Homo sapiens: one gene and its partners. The protein of the gene in region 4 interacts with the protein of the main gene of each other region in a pairwise test. Each region holds a gene or a part of one and is shown on either strand. Other genes may lie near its edges. The genes, in order: CD36, KRTAP22-1, HRG and CHRD.

Region 1 (5,032 bases), on a different chromosome or scaffold from region 4:
CCCTATTGGCTAGGTGAGTTGGCAAGTTGATTTAAGGACTTGCGCCTGTAAGATGAGTAAAATAACAGCAACTTCTCACAGATATTTTTGAAGATTAAGTGAACTAGTATATAGGAAACTCTTAGTAAGAATTAAATGTTAGCCATCTAATCTCTAAATTCAGGTTTTATCATATCTTACACTTGCTGAAAAACATACCGACGACTATTGTGTATTGTATCATCAATTAAGTATTTTTCTGCCTGATGTTCTAAGCTTGCTTCCTAACTCTAACCCCATGTTAACTTCTAATCTTTTCTGCTGTTAATCCAGTATTATGGGCACATTCTCTACCTTCTTCCTTCCATCTTCACTGCATTTGGTAGCATTTTCACAGGGTTTTTCATACTATCAATCAGTCCTTTAATATGGTTACTGCAGTTATTTGAGACTTTCAAAATTCTACACTTCTTTAAAATCTGAATCAAGTCCTACCTTTTTCCTGAAGTTTCTTGAATACTCTGAGAGATTTCTCTTTCAAAGTATTACAGCATTTACTTTTCCAATTCAATTCTAGAGTCTCATAGGTCTCGGTATTTTTTATTATAATATATCTTCCCCTGGTTATAGCTTACAATAGATGAGATTATATTATTCTCTTAGTCATTATACAAAAGCACATTTTGATGTCAGAAAACTTACTTTCTCATGGTTAACTATTATAAGCATAAAGATAAATATTAAAGAATTAAAATAAATGCTAGCACCTCACATGCTATTCAAAAGAATCTACATGTACCAGTTTTGTTGCATGACAAAGAAAAAAATTAAATCATCAATACTCAGTTATTGACCAATAATTATGTGTCAGCAAAAAAAAGTAGTCTAAATCGCTGTGCATTGGAAGATTATTGTGATTTTTGAATTTGGAAAACTTTTCCAAATGATGTTGTAGTCTGTACGTTAACACAGACACTGATCTTGTACTTTCTCTGCATAAGATCTGGGTGAGAACATAGTTTATGAGTAGGAAGGATGTCAGATCAATGGCCACTCCATCCCACTATTAGATAAGCCCCACACCTCACTATTACCTGTCTGTTTCCATTGGCCTGTATTAAAAATACTATCAAGAAAACTAAGAATTCCAAGGCAGGGGATACTAATTTACATATGTTTTTTCAGTTAAATGCATGAGGCTGAAGTTCTGCAATATGTTAGCAATAAACACAATACAGTCAGCCCTCTGTATTCATGGGTTCCACATCTGCAGATTCAACCAACTGTGGATCAAAAATATTAAAAATACTAACAATATAGCAATAAAAATTTAATAAAAATTCAATTCCTCCTGTTCTCCATCGTGCACTATGCTTACTAACCCTTTGTCTAGGTCATTGCCATCCTAACCAGGTAGAGAGTTGAAGGCAGAACTCGTTTTATTTGGCCAGTATTATGTTTAATAAAATGAACATTTATGCCTTCAGGCAGTAAACACACAGTCTAGTTCACAGCAGTTCCTGTTCTTCATTTTATCTTGTTCTTGGCACCTTAAATTTTGTTTAACCCCTGTATCCAAACTCCTGCAGCCATTTGAATTTGCCATCCCTGATTTAGAACTTCAGCAGAACTGCTTCCCTTTATTCTCTTCTTCCCCCTATCAATCAACGTTTCTGATGAGTGAGTGTGTAGCTAATTCGAATAAGCTAGGGTGGGAGATGAATTCTAGGTTGTTGTGCAAAGCCCATCTATTCAATCATTCTGTTTTTTCACACTACAGTCAATTTGTTTTATACTAAGACATGTTCTGCATATTTCTGAAAGTATTTTCTAAGATTCCAATATGAAGCTTCACAAATAGAAAATATTTATGAGATGAGATTATTACACATATATAAAAATAGTGGATTACTAAACAGTGTATTACCAAACAAGTTTACCTACAATTTAATAAGGATTTATGTTTCAATATTAAACACATTACACACACACACACACACACACACAGTTTTACTTTTCTCAGTATTAACTAAAGTGCAACTTCTTTTATAAATGTGCTTTTACAAAATATACTCACTTATTTCCTACTCAAAAGCATGCCAACATGCTCTTTGGACATAACTTAAAACAATTATTTCTACTAACATGCATACCTGTAGACAGCTTTTAATAGAATTTGGTATTTATATTTAAGACAGCAATGGAGTCATGTTAAATATACATTATACTTATAACATTTCACATAAAGTCGCATCATATAGAGTTGCAGTGGTTCATAATTACCTTTATGTCAAAGATACAAAATTAGCAGTTACCATGAAATATAAAGCAGGTAAATACAAAGCAAAAAAAGAGAAGTTAGAATCAATCAAAATGAGAAGGCATATTCTTTGGACTACTTGTACCTTTTTAATTGTCTTCTGGATAAGCAGGTCTCCAACTGGCATTAGAATACCTCCAAACACAGCCAGGACAGCACCAATGACAGCCCCAGCGATGAGCCCACAGTTCCGGTCACAGCCCATTTTTCTTGTTCAGGAGGTGAATTAGTGTTAAGCACCTGTTTCTTGCAAACTCCTGGATATGATTAAAGTGGTTTCTACAAGCTCTGGTTCTATCATTAGAAAGAGATCATAAAACAGAAGCTTAAATATCAGTACAAAAAGATCAAAGTACAAAGAAAACACCCACTGAAACGTATCATTTTGCCCGTTCTAAATAAACAAATGCTTTTCTTTTTGTTTCACCAAAGTGGCTTCCTCGGTCCGTCTCCCTTTTCTTGCTTCTAATGCCTACCAGTGGCAGAACTAATAATGTCATATCTGAATTTCTTCATATTCCTCCTTTTTAATTTTCTTTCTACACATGATTAACATATTGAAATCTTATCTAAGGAGAACTCTCACCCTCATCTCTCTTCCCTTGTCTCAGCAACTTAGTTGCATCCTCACTATCTGGTTTCTCCACCCAACACAACCTTCCACACCCCTTCTGGAGCTCTCCTGCGAACAGAATGTGGGTTGACTGATGTGTTTTCCATTAAATGATAAGCAAGTATGGTAACAGATGTTTTATTTACGATACCTTATTCACAAATCAACAGCAAGACATGAATTTTACAGGAAATGAACTGATGAGTCACAGAAAGAATCAATTCGTCTAATCATTGGAAAGCTATCTGTGAAAATAAGAAAAGCATGGGTAAATAGAAAAAAATTCTCAGAAATTTTATACTGGGACACTCTCTAATATCACCATACTTAAAATAACTGTTAAAAGAAAGTCTAATTTTCATGAATACTGAGTTCAGGCCTGAATGGCTTGTCCTAAAAACTGTTTAAAACATGGAATTTTTAAAATAAGAGTATCTTACTTTCAGTTTTATTGATGACTTTGGATAGACTACAGGTATAAAGAATTTGAAGCAAATATAAAATGTAGAGGATGTCTTGTTTCAACCATGGCATTGCTCTCTTACTGAAGAATTTTTTCCCTACACATTCAACTACAATATAGTTTGTCATTTGCAGTTGATTCATGCTAATTCTGTTAAAATTAGGTAGTTTGTGTTAGTATATATTTGTCAATCTAATGTTTGGTGTCTTCATAAAGTATGTGATTATTATTATTTTTTGAGACGGAGTCTTTCTCTGTCACCCAGGCTGGAGTGCAGTGGCACGATCTCGGCTCACTGCAACCTCTGCCTCCTGGGTTCAAGCAATTCTCCTGACTCAGCCTCCTGTGTAGCTGGGATTACAGGTGCACGCCACCATGCCTGGTTAATTTTTGTATTTTCAGTAGAGATGGGGTTTCACCATGTTGGTCAGGCTGGTCTCGAACTCCTGACCTCGTGATCCACCCACCTCAGCCTCCCAAAGTGCTGGGATGACAGGCGTGAGCCACCATGCCCAGCCATAGTATGTGATTATTATATAAAGATTGGGAGAGCCGGGCGTGGTGGCTCACACCTGTCATCCTAGCACTTTGGAAGGCTGAGGCGGGTGGATCACCTGAGGTTGGGAGTTTGAGACCAGCCCGACCAACACAGAGAAACCCCATCTCTACTAAACATACAAAGTTAGCCGGGCTTGGTGGCACATGCTTGTAATCCCAGCTACTCCGGAGGCTGAGGCAGGAGAATCGCTTGAACCCAGGAGGCGGAGGTTGCGGTGAGCCGAGATCATGCCATTGCACTCCAGCCTGGGCAACAAGAGTGAAACTCCATCTCAAAAAAAAAAAAAAAGATTGGAAGAAAGAATACAGTTTGTGAAATGAGTGGATCCTACTGTAATAATCAGAGTTAATTCTAACTAGTATTTGAAAACACATTTATTTGAACTTCTTTGTTGTTGCAATGACATTTTGTCAATAATGGGGTTGGCGTGTCATTTATAGTCAGAATGCGCTTTATAGTTTATAAACAATTATTCTCTACTTTGAAATGCTCATGGCCAAAGAAAACATATGTGCCAACGGAATGAAGGCTACAGTCAAAAAAGGGCACATAGAATATTGTTGTTAATGTTGTAAGTGTATTAATAATTGTGGTTTGTTATAATTTCAGGTTTTCCCTCCACAGCTGTCTTGCAACAGAGGTACCACTCTTATGATTTTATTAGTATTTACTTCCACTTTAGTAATCATATAGTTTTTCAAAAATATTACCTGTAGAGCTAAGAAAAGAATAAGAAAATGATATTTTCCCCCAAAATGTAGGAATAAATGTTACAAATATTTTTCTTGGCAATTTTATTATTTACATATGTTCCCTTAACCTTTGGGATTCCCCTTTGCCTATTCCCTTATACATAGGATACTTTCCAGTATAAACCATAGGATGCAATAAACTTCATTTACATCAAGGTCTTGGTGATTAAGAAGACTGACTAGTTCTTTAGTGTCATTTTTCTCCAATGTAAAGGGAATGCACATAAGTCTAAACAAGTGATTTGTTTTTCCTGTGGAATTTTCTGTCTCACTGAGCAAGTAGGGCTGGCTTTTTATTAATTGTTCAGGGTGGAGTGGTAACAATAGCTTTCCCTGCCCTTGGAAA
Region 2 (3,722 bases), on a different chromosome or scaffold from region 4:
ATTCCTGCCCACTATGGCAGGACAAAAGCCAAGGCTGTGACAAAGATGCTTTCTTCAGTCTCCCTTCAGTTTCACTGCCTGTCAATACTTGGAGATGTCAGAGTGATACGGCTCTATATGTTGTCTGTCTTTAATTGATGAAGAATTTTAAAAAATTCTTTATTATTGTTTCATCTAGATGTTTTAAAAAATCATGTATTTGGAAGCTAGTTAAGAGTTTAGCCAACTTCATACTATAATAGCCATTAACAAAGTAATTTTGTATGAATATTTTATTAGTTGTAGAAACTCCAAATGTTAACATTAGTCACTAACAGATTAGAAGATATTTTTGCTTTATATTTTTATCAATGTCGACTGATAAATAATAAGTAGAGTGAATAAAGAACAGCTTTGCTTAACTTGAGCACGGCTGGCAAACTGAAGTCTATATTTTTCAGCTTGTATTTTGGGTCAGACTTGTGTCTTCAAGAAGAAAGTATTACCTGAGGTAGCAGATATTGACCTTGATAAAAGGTTCACAGAAACATACTTAAATTTGATGGACTCTCTGTGGCCACATGGGTCTGACACTTGGAAGTGCTGTCTATGCAGCCACCAGGCATAGGATGAGTTCAAGAGTATATTTTTTCAGAGTTAAAAGAAACAGCCATAATATAGGATTTAGAGAAAAAGTTACAGCTATCTAGAGCCAAAAATGCAACTAAGTATCAAGAAATGTAATGTATGTGCAACAGAATAAAGTGATGAGAAGGGAGGTACTATTTTTGCCAATGATTTTAGTCAAACATTGGATACACTGAAGATGAGGCTTTGATAGATCAAAGTAAATTATAGTACCACTTGGCTCTGCCCATGAGAATACATTTTATCAAAGTACTATTGGTCAGACCTAACACATCCACATCATCAACTGTAAGTTTCCAATGGGTCAGCAACCTTACATATGTGCTCCTGAACACACACACACAATCACAAATAATATAGGTACTCTAGATAAATAAATATAGGTAGGAAAATGCTGTAGGTTTGCAAAATAAATTACCTTTGAAGAAAAATAAATTTAGACTTTTTCCCAAATGAAAATGCTTAACATTATTTGTACTTAATCATATACTAGTAACACAACATCAAAGGTTCTTTTTTCGTTTGATTAAATTGTTGGAAATTCCAGCTAATTGATCAAATAAATTCTGACTTGGCAATGTGGGCTAAATTTTAGTTGTCACTCTTTGAACAGAAAAAAACACGGGAAGAAAACATAGCTCATAAGAGAATGGCCTAAACAGATCAGCAATCTCTAATTTCTCAGAAGCAGCCAGAAAACCAAGATCTTTCATAACACCATGGGCAGTAGCAGGCATAGCCATAGCCGCTAAGACCACAGCCATAGCTGCAGCCCAGGCCTCCTTTGGCATAGCCCTGGCCACCATGGTAGTTGTTATCAAAGCTCATGGTTTCAAGAAAGGTAGGCTCAGTTGTATAGCAGGATCAGATTCTAGAGTTTTAAGTTTATAGAGTTTTAAGTTTAAAGTTTTAAGCTTATAATAAGGGCCTTAAATGCCACATGAATGGTATGTGGGACAAATCACAGGCACTGTTAGATTCACATTCCACACTAATTAGCATTGAAACCATCTAAAATATTCCTTGTAACCAATACATCCAAGACAACTTTGCTGTTTCTCAGGAATGTTGAATATAATGAAATAATGTACCTTTAATAAGAGATCCATCTCCTATTTTGATGACTCGTTTATTTCAGATGTCAAATTTAAACTACATTACCAGCAACCAAGAGTAACCCACATGGCTTCCACTTGTTGTTGTTGTTGTTGTTGTTGTTGTGAGACAGAGACTAGCTCTGTTGCCTGGCTGGAGTGCAGTGGCACAATCTCACTGCAACCTCCACCTCCTGGTTTCAAGTGATTCTCCTGGATTCTCTGCCTCAGCCTTATGAATAGCTGGTGCGTGCCACCACGCCCAGCTAATTTTTGTATTTTTAGTAGAGATGGGGTTTCGCCATGTTGGCCAGGATGGTCTTGATCTCCTGACCTCAAGATCCGCCCGCCTCGGCCTCCCAAAGCCTGGGGTTATGGACGTGATGGCTTCCATTTTTTAAAAATCCTACTTTCACCCAATAATATCCTTCAGCCTAAATACATATATGCAGACTTGGGAATAAGAGTGTAGCTCCAAAGTGATAAGGAAGGATGATAAGCGTGTAAGAGAAGTCATGGTGGCAGCATTCACTTGTAAAATGTTGAGTGATAAGGTGTTTCATCACTTTTTGTGGAGCAATATCATTCTCTTTGGTTTATACTTCACATGTAGCTATCATTTTATATATGATTCTAAACCGTGGCAAAGACTTTGATTTTTGACTTCGTTGATTCTGGGTATATAGTAAGAAAAGGACTTCTATTAAAAATCTGAATTTTAAAACAATTCCAGAATTACTCAAAGATTTATTGGCATCATGACTCCCTGAGATGGCACAAGACAAGAGTTACATCTCTTCCCAAATGTATAACCTCAATCTACATATGAGGAAACCTTAGACAGATTCAATTGGGGAATATTCCACAAAATATCTGGCTCTCTAAAATTGTAAGGTCATAAAAGCCAAGAAAAGACGAATGAACCATGAGCAATTGGAGGTGACTAAGAAGTATAAAAACCAAATGCAATGTGAATTGGATCCAAGAACAGAAAAAAAGAACATTAAAATAAATATGTGAATAGTGCTACAATGAACCATGGTCCTAGAACTTAAAATAAAATAAGTTAATAATAACAGAAAAATGGTAAAATAAAGTCTGCAGTTTAGTTAAGAATACTGTACACAGTTAATTTCTTTGGTGTGATAAGTGGATTATGGTTATGAAAGATATTAATATTAGGGATGTTGAATGATGGATATATGGAAATTTTCTATACTATTTTGACAACTATCTCTATGCCTGAGATTATTTTAAGATAAGAAGTTAAAAGAGAATATAAAACTATTGTTCCATTTCATTGACTTGGTCACTTATTAATTCTTTTATAAATCAAGAAAATAACTTACATTTTCTTGTTCTTCCGTAGAGGTTGAACATAAAGGAAAATTAGACTCACTGGTATAAGTAGAAAAATACAACAAATTTTTCTCAGATCTGGTTTTCTAGAATTTTTAATTAGTTGAATTATTATCAACATCATGGCTTTAGTATAGAAAAGACACTAAATCCCTGAAAAAAGTATTATTTGGATAAAGAGAGCAGAAATACTAAAAGGGCAAAGTTATTGTTTGCTGAATGTTGTGCAAAAGAGTACAATTAATTGGGGCCTAGAGCAAATAAGAGTGTAACTAACAAAAGTCTTTCTTGATGTAAAGGATGGCTATAGAAAGTCTAGTTTGAGGCAGGATTATATGAGTGTGAGTGTGTGAGGTCTCCTTTCATCAGAGCCCTCAATCAGATAAGGGGAGCCCAAATTGCAAGGCCAAACAAAACAAGCCTCCTTAATACCTCTGCAGCATTATCTTACAATTGAGAAAAAACAAACTAATTATATTAGTCAAAAAATTAGCCAGTGGTATGCTACCTCTGCTGGATCATTCCCATCCTGAGGCATATAAAAGGACTTCTACAGGAAGTATCCATACTGAAGTCACCTACACTCCTTCCTACCCAAGGACAACCTCCACAACCATCACGATGTGCGGCAGCTACTACGGA
Region 3 (5,032 bases), 2.3 Mb from region 4:
GACAGGCAGCAGGTATTTAAAAAATACAAAAAAATTGCTTTCCTCAAACACTTTTTTTTTTTTTTGAAGGATGGGTAGGGGAGTAGACATCTGACAGAGTAGGGAGAAAATCTAAAGAGGAAACAGGGAAAGACAAGAACATATGAGGGTTGTGTCATTGCAAATCATCCAATACTAACATTCTTGTACTATGATGGAAAACTGAAGTTCAGAGAAATTACCTCACCACACCCAGTAATGTGCCTATAGTTAGATGGTTCCCTGCTCTCTCTACAAGGACCCAAGTACTTTCACCCAGAGCTGTCTTGTAGAGCAACTGGTTGACATTTGCTATGCATTCAGAAAATGCAGCGTTAAATAGATTGTGTTGCATACAAGTAAGGAAATGAGTACCATGCAGTTGCTCAAAGAATGTTTGGACCCATGCGCACTGGAGTTTGAAAACATATTGGTATAGGAAAATGCAGGTTATAGAACAGTACTTAGACTATGGACCCATTTATATGAAACACTTAGATCTCCCTGTGTATGTGTAACACATCTAGGAAAACACTCGAAGAGGAAACACATCAAATAAATGAGAATGAAAACTCTGGGAAGAAGTTGGAGTGCAGGAGAGGTGATTTTTCACACTCTACTTTATCATATATTTATTATTTGAACCTTTTCAGTGAACTGGTATTCACCTTATCACTTAGGTGATACATTTTTAAAAGGCAGAAACCATTTTAAAAAATGACACATACTGGTGATTTTGAATTCTCATACTGCCTTAAAAAATATTGAATGGTAGTTATCTACTGCTTTTTTTTCCTTTTTCTTTGTCTGTTCTTGAAACTATTTTGATCCCATCTGTTCTAGAGAGGAGGGGAAGGAACTGGTTACTTCGTGGACTTCTCTGTGCGGAACTGCCCCAGACACCATTTCCCCAGACACCCCAATGTGAGTATAAGAAATGTCTGTGATCGTTGACTAGAGTCACAGAGAAAAAAGAAAGAGAAGAAGGAGAAGGAGAAGGAGAAGGAGAGGAAGGAGAAGAAGGAGAAGAGGAATGAGAAGGAGAAAATGAGGAGGAGGAGAAGGAGGAAGAAATGTCTGTGAAATACAAAGTATCATCTGGGAAGCACTTAGTACCTGCCAGGCACTCTTCTAAGTGATTTACACATCAGATAACTTATTGTTTTGTTTTGTTTTTGAGATGGAGTTTCGCTCTTGTTGCCCAGGTTGGAGTGCAATGGCACAGTGTCGGCTCACTGCAACCTCCGCCTCCCGGGTTCAGGCGATTCTCCTGCCTCAGCCTCCGGAGTAACTGGGATTACAGGCATGCACCACCACGCCCAGCTAATTTTTGTATTTTTAGTAGAGATGGGGTTTCACCATGTTGATCAGGTTGGTCTCAAACTCCTTATCTCAGGTGTCCACCCACTTCGGCTGGGATTACAAATCAAAGTGCTGGGGTTACAGGCGCAAGCCACCATGCCCAGCCTATGATAACTTATTAACCCTCACACTACCATATGAGATAGATACCATTTTTAATCCCAAATTAGCAGATAGGGGAACTGAGGCACAGAGAACATAAGCGAACCATAAGAACATGATTTTATAATATACATGATATATACCTAAACTTAAAACTAAGTTTCTAACTGATTAGGATTAAAGGCTTAGTTAGAACTATAGCAGTTCGTACTAAGACCCTACGCCAAGTGGTTTTATTAATTCCACATCATCACACTCACAGGAATCCCACTTGACAAATGAGGAGGTAACTGAAAATCAGCAAAGGAAAGGTCTTGCCGATGTTCACAACCAAGCTGAGATTAAAACTTAGTTATTCTCATACAAAGTCCAGTGGGATTTTTCCTCTAATCATTTACAAATAGATTCCCATGTACCTGCCAGAAGACATTATTAATACCACCTGGCATTTGCATGGTGACCTACAGTTAAAGAAACACCTCCACATCTGTTATTGCCAGGAGAGCCTCATGAAAATCCTGCTGACAAGGAAAAGCAAGTATCTGCCTACATTTCCTGTGACAAGGGGACCTGAAATTAAAACCACTTACCTAAAGGCACTTAGCTAGAGAGTGTTAGGAAATGGAATTTTAATTATGATGCCAAGTCCAGGATTTTTCTGAGGTTTAACAACACATTCTCCCTGGTCAAAAGGGAGAAACCATCCATTAGTACCTTTGTTAGCTCTTCTAATGTCCACACTGAACCAGGTCTAGAAACCTTCTTAGCGCCCACCAGAAAAGACACCTCCCTCCCCTACTCCTATGGCCAACAAACCCTTCATGATCTTGGTGTGGATAATGTAAACCCAGAGTTGAAGCACCAGAGCTGAAGAGGAGGCTCAGGGGTAAGTGTTTTACAGCATCCTCTTGTTTAATTAATCCCTCCCACAACCTGTGAGTACATAGTATTATCCCCATTTTACAATGGCTGACTTTCAGAAATCTTTTGTAACTTTCCCAAACTCAGACAACTAGGAAATGGAGAAGCCAGGATTAACATAGGTCTCTCTGATTCCCAAACTGTACTCAGAACCTCAATGCTTAGCAATTTCTTCTAGCAGACAGCCGTCCTCTTGTCCTAGTCGATCTTTCACAGGTGGGTTTAGGAGCATCTGGAGCACAGGAGTGGCAGCCAGTTGTAGCCCTGGCACTTGGGTGGAGTCAGCAGACACTTGCCTTGACAATGTCCATGAAAACCCATCTTTATGCTATACAGATGCCCTCCTGTCCAACACTTTCCTCCAAGGGACCAGCTGAAGTTGTAAAAATCCCTCTTTGACACCATTCCTCATTGTCCTAGGCACAGGCAACTGAGGTCTCCAGTGCAGAAGGGTTGGCCTAAAGGCAAGGCAGCAATGATGTGGTTTTCCTCATCATTTCCATCACCCATGGGGAAGCCCAGTGCTGGTGCCTGCTCATGAAAAAAACCACAGCAACTTTAGTGATACCCTTCACCACCTGCACTTTCCCCAAAGTGTTAACAAGGAAAGATTGCTGAACGACTGGTGGGAATATCTGATCATATTACCCTGATTTTTCTAAAGCACTTCTTCCTTTTCTGAATGTCTGGAAGCTAACTCTGGCTGGTCATCTTCACACCACCTGGACACACACACTAACAGCTCCTCATTCCTTTGTAGGTCTTTGGATTCTGCAGAGCAGATTTGTTCTATGATGTAGAAGCCTTGGACTTGGAAAGCCCGAAAAACCTTGTCATAAACTGTGAAGTCTTCGACCCTCAGGTGGGTTGTCTAAGCAGACTTTGTCATGGCAGTGCCAGATTAAGTGACATACGTACACAAATAGTGTTGTTGCTTCCTAAAGCTCTATGAGTGGGTGTGTGTGTGTGTGTGTGTGTGTGAGAGAGAGAGAGAGAGAGAGAGACAGAGACAGAGACAGAGAGAGGGAGACAGGGAGAGAGAGAAAGAGAGAGACAGACAGACATGCAAGAAAAAAGATACAGAGAGTATCCCACAACTGGGGAAAGGAGTGCAATTGCCAGATTACACAAAAAGTATGAAAACTTTTCCAAGAATTGAAGAGGGGTAACAATTGGCAGAAAATTAAAATCATGTCCAATTCAACCAAACTTGAAGGAATTTGAAAATGCTCTTTGTAGTCGGGACTCTAGTGCTGAGACTTAGTCATTCCTAAGCTTATATTATTGGGCATAGAATCTAAGAGGAATATATCAGCCTCAAATTTATTATGTAAATGTATATAAAATAAGATGCAAAACCATATTTTGCATCTGTCTCAGAAATCTTTGGTCTATTTTTTACATGAGTACAAAGATTTGCTTCACGAAATTTTTCATATCAGAAACAAAACTTAAAATAATCCAAACATCCAATCCCAAGTTAAAAAAAAGAAAAAGGAACAAAGGGCAGGATTGTCACCATGAACATGGCTCTGTCTTTTTTTTTTTTTTTTTTTTTGAGAAGGAGTTTTGCTCTTATTGCCCAGGCTGGAATACAATGGTGCCATCTCGGCTCACCACAACCTCTGCCTCCTGGGTTCAAGCGATTCTCCTGCCTCAGCCTCCTGAGTAGCTAGGATTACAGGCATGCGCCACCATACCTGGCTAATTTTGCATTTTTAGTAGAGAAGGGGTTTCTCCATGTTGGTCAGGTTGGTCTCAAACTCCTGACCTTAGGTGATCCACCTGCCTCAGCCTCCCAAAGTTCTGGGATTACAGACATGAGCCACCGTGCCCGGCCTCTGTAGCTATTTTTTAAAAAATTAAACTCTGAACAAGGAAGAGAGAGAAGAGGTCAAGTGTTCAGCCTTTAGGAGTAAGGGATGTTGATACCATCAAGCCTCAGTTAAGAATATCAGTTATAAGGCACTAGTTTTCCAGTGTTGGTCTACAGATGGGTGCCAGGTCATAATATTGTTTCACCACTCTGTGTAGTAAAAATGAAAAAAAAATAAGGATAATGAAGTTTTTTATATCTAACATTTATCCATCTAAAGGACAATCCTTTACTCTGATATTGTGTTTCTGGCTCTTTCTTTTTTTTTTAAATCAAAATTTCATTCCAGGCTGGGCATGGTGGCTCATGCCTGTAATCCCAGCACTTTGGGAAGCTGAGATGGGTGGATTACTTGAAACAAGGAGTTCAACATGGTGAAACCTGTCTCTACTAAAAATACAAAAATTAGGAGTCTGGGCAACAGAGTAAGACTATGTCTCAAAAAAAGAAAAAAAAAAATTAGGTGGGCATGGTGGCTTGGGCGTGTAGTCCCAGCTACTTGGGAGGCTGAGGCAGGAGAATTGCTTGAACCTGAGAGGTGGATGTTGCAATGAGCAGAGATCGCACCACTGCACTCCAGACTGGGTGACAGAGCGAGACTCAGTCTCAGAAAAAAAAAATAGTTTCTTTTGTGAAACAATGATGGTGGTAAATGATAGTTATTGTTAATATTTTAAATATCAACTGGGCTAGATAACAATTTGAGAATCTTTTTTCGTAATACTTTTTAAATTGATTTGTGGAATCTATGAT
Region 4 (5,032 bases):
AGGCACTGACATTATGATGCCCATTTTACAGAAGGGGGAACTGAGGCTCAGTAGGATAATGTGATTTGTTCAAGGTCACACAGCTAGTAAGTGGTGCAGCCAGGATTGGAACCCAAGCATCTGGCTCCAGCGTTCTTTCTTAAGCTTCCTAGGGCACCCTGGAGGTTCCTTTCCATGTTCCTTTTTCATAAGCCCTGCCTGGGCATCCTAATTGGCCTAGCCTGCACAGTGTCTGAGCGTAGGGCCTTCTTGTCTCTCTGCTCCAGGTCTGTGGGGTGTGGCGGGCAGTGCCTCGGTTGTCTCTGCGGCTCCTTAGGGCAGAACAGCTGCATGTGGCACTTGTGACACTCACTCACCCTTCAGGGGAGGTCTGGGGGCCTCTCATCCGGCACCGGGCCCTGGCTGCAGGTAGGGAGCAAAGAGCCCCGGGCGTGAAGTTCTGAGTCTTCTCTATCACCCAGGAAAGGGGGGGAGGGTTTCTGACGGGCTCTCATCATCGTCCCTTCCCCAGAGACCTTCAGTGCCATCCTGACTCTAGAAGGCCCCCCACAGCAGGGCGTAGGGGGCATCACCCTGCTCACTCTCAGTGACACAGAGGACTCCTTGCATTTTTTGCTGCTCTTCCGAGGGCTGCTGGAACCCAGGAGTGGGGGTAAGTGGGATGGGGGCAAAACACGTGAGAAGGTTAGGGAGAGCACCTGTCTCAGAAAGGCCCACATGTGCGGCCTTGCAGGACTAACCCAGGTTCCCTTGAGGCTCCAGATTCTACACCAGGGGCAGCTACTGCGAGAACTTCAGGCCAATGTCTCAGCCCAGGTGAGTGGGGATCTGGCTCTCGCTGCCACCTGTCTTGGCCTCTTGCTATTGCCCATCACACCCTGCTCTGTCCCCAGGAACCAGGCTTTGCTGAGGTGCTGCCCAACCTGACAGTCCAGGAGATGGACTGGCTGGTGCTGGGGGAGCTGCAGATGGCCCTGGAGTGGGCAGGCAGGCCAGGGCTGCGCATCAGTGGACACATTGCTGCCAGGAAGAGCTGCGACGGTGAGGCGGGGGGGGGGCCTGGTGCGCCGGGCATGCACAACTGAGAGACACAGACAAGTGCCAGGGTGGGTGTGGGAGAGATCCTGTGGACTGGGGGTGTAAGCGGCCATGGGGTAAACCTAGCCTCACCTGTCTTGCCCCTCCGTAGTCCTGCAAAGTGTCCTTTGTGGGGCTGATGCCCTGATCCCAGTCCAGACGGGTGCTGCCGGCTCAGCCAGCCTCACGCTGCTAGGAAATGGCTCCCTGATCTATCAGGTAAGAGCCAGGGGCTGCAGAAGGTGGGGGAGGGGTGGCGTGGGCAGCAGGCCCCAGGCCTTTACTGCCTCTCCACTTTGCCCTCCTCCATCCCTGCCCATCAGGTGCAAGTGGTAGGGACAAGCAGTGAGGTGGTGGCCATGACACTGGAGACCAAGCCTCAGCGGAGGGATCAGCGCACTGTCCTGTGCCACATGGCTGGACTCCAGCCAGGAGGACACACGGTGAGGGCTCCAGGTGGAGCTGGACCCCAGGGCCCAATGCATGGGCTGTGGGAAGCCAGGTTGGATGAGCAGGGATGTTCATTATCATCCACTCACTCATGGGTTCTCCCACTCATTCATTTATTCATTTGACTTTTTTTTTTTTTTTTTTTTGAGATGGAGTCTGGCTCTGTCACCAGGCTGGAGTGCAGTGGTGTGATCTTGGCTTACTGCAACCTCTGCCTCCTGGGTTCAAGCGATTCTCCTGCCTCAGCCTCCCAAGTAGCTGGGACCACAGGTGTGCACCACCACACCCAGCTAATTTCTGTATTTTTAGTAGAGACGGGGTTTCACCGTGTTGGCCAGGATGGTCTTGATCTCTTGACCTCATGGTCCGCCCACTTCGGCCTCCCAAAGTGCTGGGATTACAGGCGAGAGCCACCGTGCCCGGCATGATTTGACATTTTTAGTGAGCCCCAGACTAGGGACTAGAGTACAAAGCAAATCATATGTGGCCCCTGTGCTTAGCAAGCTCACAGTCAAATGGGAGCATTGGACCTGGAGAACAGTGCCACAGGCCACATATTAGTAAATGTAATGGCAATGGTTGCTACTTATAGGGCCTTTCCATGTGCTAGGTGCTGCATTGGTGGCCTTACATAGTTTTTGGCTTTCACAGTATCCATTTGAGAGATGAGGAAGTGAAGACTTGGAGAAGTTAAGTTACTCTTGAAGGTTGTTACATAGCTAGGAAGCAGCAGGGGAGGGCCTTGAAACTGGGCCTGCCAGGTCCTTATCCTGTGTTTCTGGTGTGTGGAAGTGTGTGTGGGTGGAGTGGGGGCACAAAATGGTCCAAGACTTCAGAACCTTGGACTCGTGTGAGAGCTGAGAAGGCCTATCCTCCCCTGCCCCCAGGCCGTGGGTATCTGCCCTGGGCTGGGTGCCCGAGGGGCTCATATGCTGCTGCAGAATGAGCTCTTCCTGAACGTGGGCACCAAGGACTTCCCAGACGGAGAGCTTCGGGGGCACGTGGCTGCCCTGCCCTACTGTGGGCATAGCGCCCGCCATGACAGTGAGTGTCCTTAGGGGTCTGTCTGCCCTTTGGTTTCCTAGAACATTTGAGGGATGGTGGCAGACAGCCGGAGCCTGGTGTGTCTTTCTTTGTGCCTAAGCTCCGGTTGCCATCTGAAGGTGGGGACATATAGGGTGGCCCTGCTGGCGGACTCTTCCTGTTGCTGAGGTTCAAGGGTCTAAAACTTGCTGCTCTCCAGGCCCTGGACCTATGGACAGTGTCTTCCAGCTCGTGGAATGTGTGCTGGGGAGCTGGGAATGCTGGGTTTGAGGGCTTGCCCTAGGCCACCTTCTCACCTGTCATCTCTCCTCTGTCTGGACCCAGCGCTGCCCGTGCCCCTAGCAGGAGCCCTGGTGCTACCCCCTGTGAAGAGCCAAGCAGCAGGGCACGCCTGGCTTTCCTTGGATACCCACTGTCACCTGCACTATGAAGTGCTGCTGGCTGGGCTTGGTGGCTCAGAACAAGGCACTGTCACTGCCCACCTCCTTGGGCCTCCTGGAACGCCAGGGCCTCGGCGGCTGCTGAAGGGATTCTATGGCTCAGAGGTAAGGATGTGATGGTAGGCGGCAGCTTGGAACATTTCTGTTTTTTAGCTTGAAGGGCTGTGTGGGCCTGTGTTGGGGAAAGCAGAGAGCAGGCAGCCTGGTATAGAAGAGCTGGCATAAATAAAATAAATTAAACAGTGATTTGTAGGCTGGGTGCAGTGGCTCAAGCCTGTAATCCCAGCACTTTGGGAGGCCAGGTGGGTGGATCACCTGAGGTAGGAAGCTCAAGACTAGCCTGACCAACATGGAGAAACCCCATCTCTACTAAAAATACAAAATTAGCTGGGCGTGGTGGCACATGCCTATAATCCCAGCTACTCCAGAGGCTGAGGCAGGAGAATCGCTTGAACCTGGGAGGTGGAGGTTGCAGTGAGCCGAGATGGCGCCATTGCACTCCAGCCTGGACAGAAAGAGCAAAAATCCGTCTCAAAAAAAAAAAAAAAAAAAAAAAAAAAAAGAGCTGGCATGGGCTTGGGAGTCAGATAGACCTGGGCATGACTCTGACTGGCTTTTTATTATTCATTCTCCTTTCTAAGTCTTTTTTTGGTGGGGTGTCTTGGATAGTATGTAATATCCTGGACCTCAGGGGGGTAGGTGGGATGGACTAAGCCCTTCAAGTGGGGTGAGTTCTCATGGACTTGGTCAGAGAGACCTGGCTTCCAAGCTCCACACTATTGCCAATGGGCTTTGCTACCATGAAGACTTTATTTAACCTCCCTGGCTCTCAGTTTCTTCATCTGTGAACTGGGGACAGTAGGCTCAGCCCTAAAGTGCCTTATTCCTATCCATTGTCCTGTCTATGTGCAGGCCCAGGGTGTGGTGAAGGACCTGGAGCCGGAACTGCTGCGGCACCTGGCAAAAGGCATGGCCTCCCTGATGATCACCACCAAGGGTAGCCCCAGAGGGGAGCTCCGAGGGCAGGTAGGTGGCGAGTGTGGGCAGTGGGGGCAGTGGGGAGGGTGCAGAGTTGGAGGGGCACTGTGTGCCATTGCACTAGTCACTTGCTGTCTCTGAGTCCTGGGGGTGGTCGTATCACAGCGCCCCCCCGGCTGGTGGGGAGGATGAGCTACATGAGGAGGCTGGCAGCCCGGCACCCTATCCCTGGCAGCTGAGATGATTGTGGAGCGAATGGCATCCTCCTGGGCCACTGCAGCGCTCAGGGGGCCGAGGTGTCTCCTGCTGGCTGGCCAGCTGCCGCTGGTAAAGACGCGAGGGGGAGCCCCAGCGCTGCCTCAGTTGGCCTCTCCTCCCAGGTGCACATAGCCAACCAATGTGAGGTTGGCGGACTGCGCCTGGAGGCGGCCGGGGCCGAGGGGGTGCGGGCGCTGGGGGCTCCGGATACAGCCTCTGCTGCGCCGCCTGTGGTGCCTGGTCTCCCGGCCCTAGCGCCCGCCAAACCTGGTGGTCCTGGGCGGCCCCGAGACCCCAACACATGCTTCTTCGAGGGGCAGCAGCGCCCCCACGGGGCTCGCTGGGCGCCCAACTACGACCCGCTCTGCTCACTCTGCACCTGCCAGGTAGGAGGTCCTGGAAGGGCACACTGGGTCCTGGGATCTGGAGCAAGGGGCCTGGACACTCCCGTCAATGCCTCTGCTCCTCTCTGCAGAGACGAACGGTGATCTGTGACCCGGTGGTGTGCCCACCGCCCAGCTGCCCACACCCGGTGCAGGCTCCCGACCAGTGCTGCCCTGTTTGCCCTGGTGAGTTCCCCGCAGGGGAGTGGAGGGAGGAGTTGGCCCAGTGCGGACAGGTCCTTTGGGGAGGGAATGAGGGTGGTCACTCTCTGCTTTCACCATTTCTTTGGCTCCACAGAGAAACAAGATGTCAGAGACTTGCCAGGGCTGCCAAGGAGCCGGGACCCAGGAGAGGGTGAGCTGGAAGGGTGCGTGCAGGGTGGGAGGCCCCAGAGGAGCCAT

Evidence for each region.
Region 1: the proteins of CHRD (region 4) and CD36 interact in a two-hybrid assay, tested with the Homo sapiens proteins (one large-scale study listed by BioGRID and IntAct).
Region 2: the proteins of CHRD (region 4) and KRTAP22-1 interact in a two-hybrid assay, tested with the Homo sapiens proteins (one large-scale study listed by BioGRID).
Region 3: the proteins of CHRD (region 4) and HRG interact in a two-hybrid assay, tested with the Homo sapiens proteins (one large-scale study listed by BioGRID and IntAct).

The regions. Positions count from the first base shown.
Region 1 is NC_000007.14:80,644,213-80,649,244, reverse strand, and holds part of CD36 (platelet glycoprotein 4), read right to left. Parts: intron 3,158-5,032; 5' UTR 3,064-3,157; intron 2,997-3,063; exon of another isoform or gene 2,886-2,996; intron 2,800-2,885; exon of another isoform or gene 2,594-2,799; 5' UTR 2,505-2,593; coding exon 2,385-2,504; intron 1-2,384.
Region 2 is NC_000021.9:30,598,854-30,602,575, reverse strand, and holds KRTAP22-1 (keratin-associated protein 22-1), read right to left. Parts: upstream 1,490-3,722; 5' UTR 1,456-1,489; coding exon 1,309-1,455; 3' UTR 1,194-1,308; downstream 1-1,193. Other genes in the region: KRTAP6-2 (keratin-associated protein 6-2), read left to right, coding at 3,702-3,722. UniProt on the Homo sapiens protein: In the hair cortex, hair keratin intermediate filaments are embedded in an interfilamentous matrix, consisting of hair keratin-associated proteins (KRTAP), which are essential for the formation of a rigid and resistant hair shaft through their extensive disulfide bond cross-linking with abundant cysteine residues of hair keratins.
Region 3 is NC_000003.12:186,671,926-186,676,957, forward strand, and holds part of HRG (histidine-rich glycoprotein precursor), read left to right. Parts: intron 1-861; coding exon 862-942; intron 943-3,163; coding exon 3,164-3,265; intron 3,266-5,032. UniProt on the Homo sapiens protein: Plasma glycoprotein that binds a number of ligands such as heme, heparin, heparan sulfate, thrombospondin, plasminogen, and divalent metal ions. Binds heparin and heparin/glycosaminoglycans in a zinc-dependent manner.
Region 4 is NC_000003.12:184,382,123-184,387,154, forward strand, and holds part of CHRD (chordin isoform 1 precursor), read left to right. Parts: intron 1-266; coding exon 267-408; intron 409-511; coding exon 512-652; coding exon of another isoform or gene 653-733; coding exon 734-816; exon of another isoform or gene 817-893; coding exon 894-1,041; intron 1,042-1,189; coding exon 1,190-1,296; intron 1,297-1,400; coding exon 1,401-1,520; intron 1,521-2,414; coding exon 2,415-2,571; intron 2,572-2,895; coding exon 2,896-3,116; intron 3,117-3,923; coding exon 3,924-4,037; intron 4,038-4,154; coding exon of another isoform or gene 4,155-4,181; exon of another isoform or gene 4,182-4,362; intron 4,363-4,369; coding exon 4,370-4,633; intron 4,634-4,722; coding exon 4,723-4,816; intron 4,817-4,928; coding exon 4,929-4,985; intron 4,986-5,032. UniProt on the Homo sapiens protein: Dorsalizing factor. Key developmental protein that dorsalizes early vertebrate embryonic tissues by binding to ventralizing TGF-beta family bone morphogenetic proteins (BMPs) and sequestering them in latent complexes.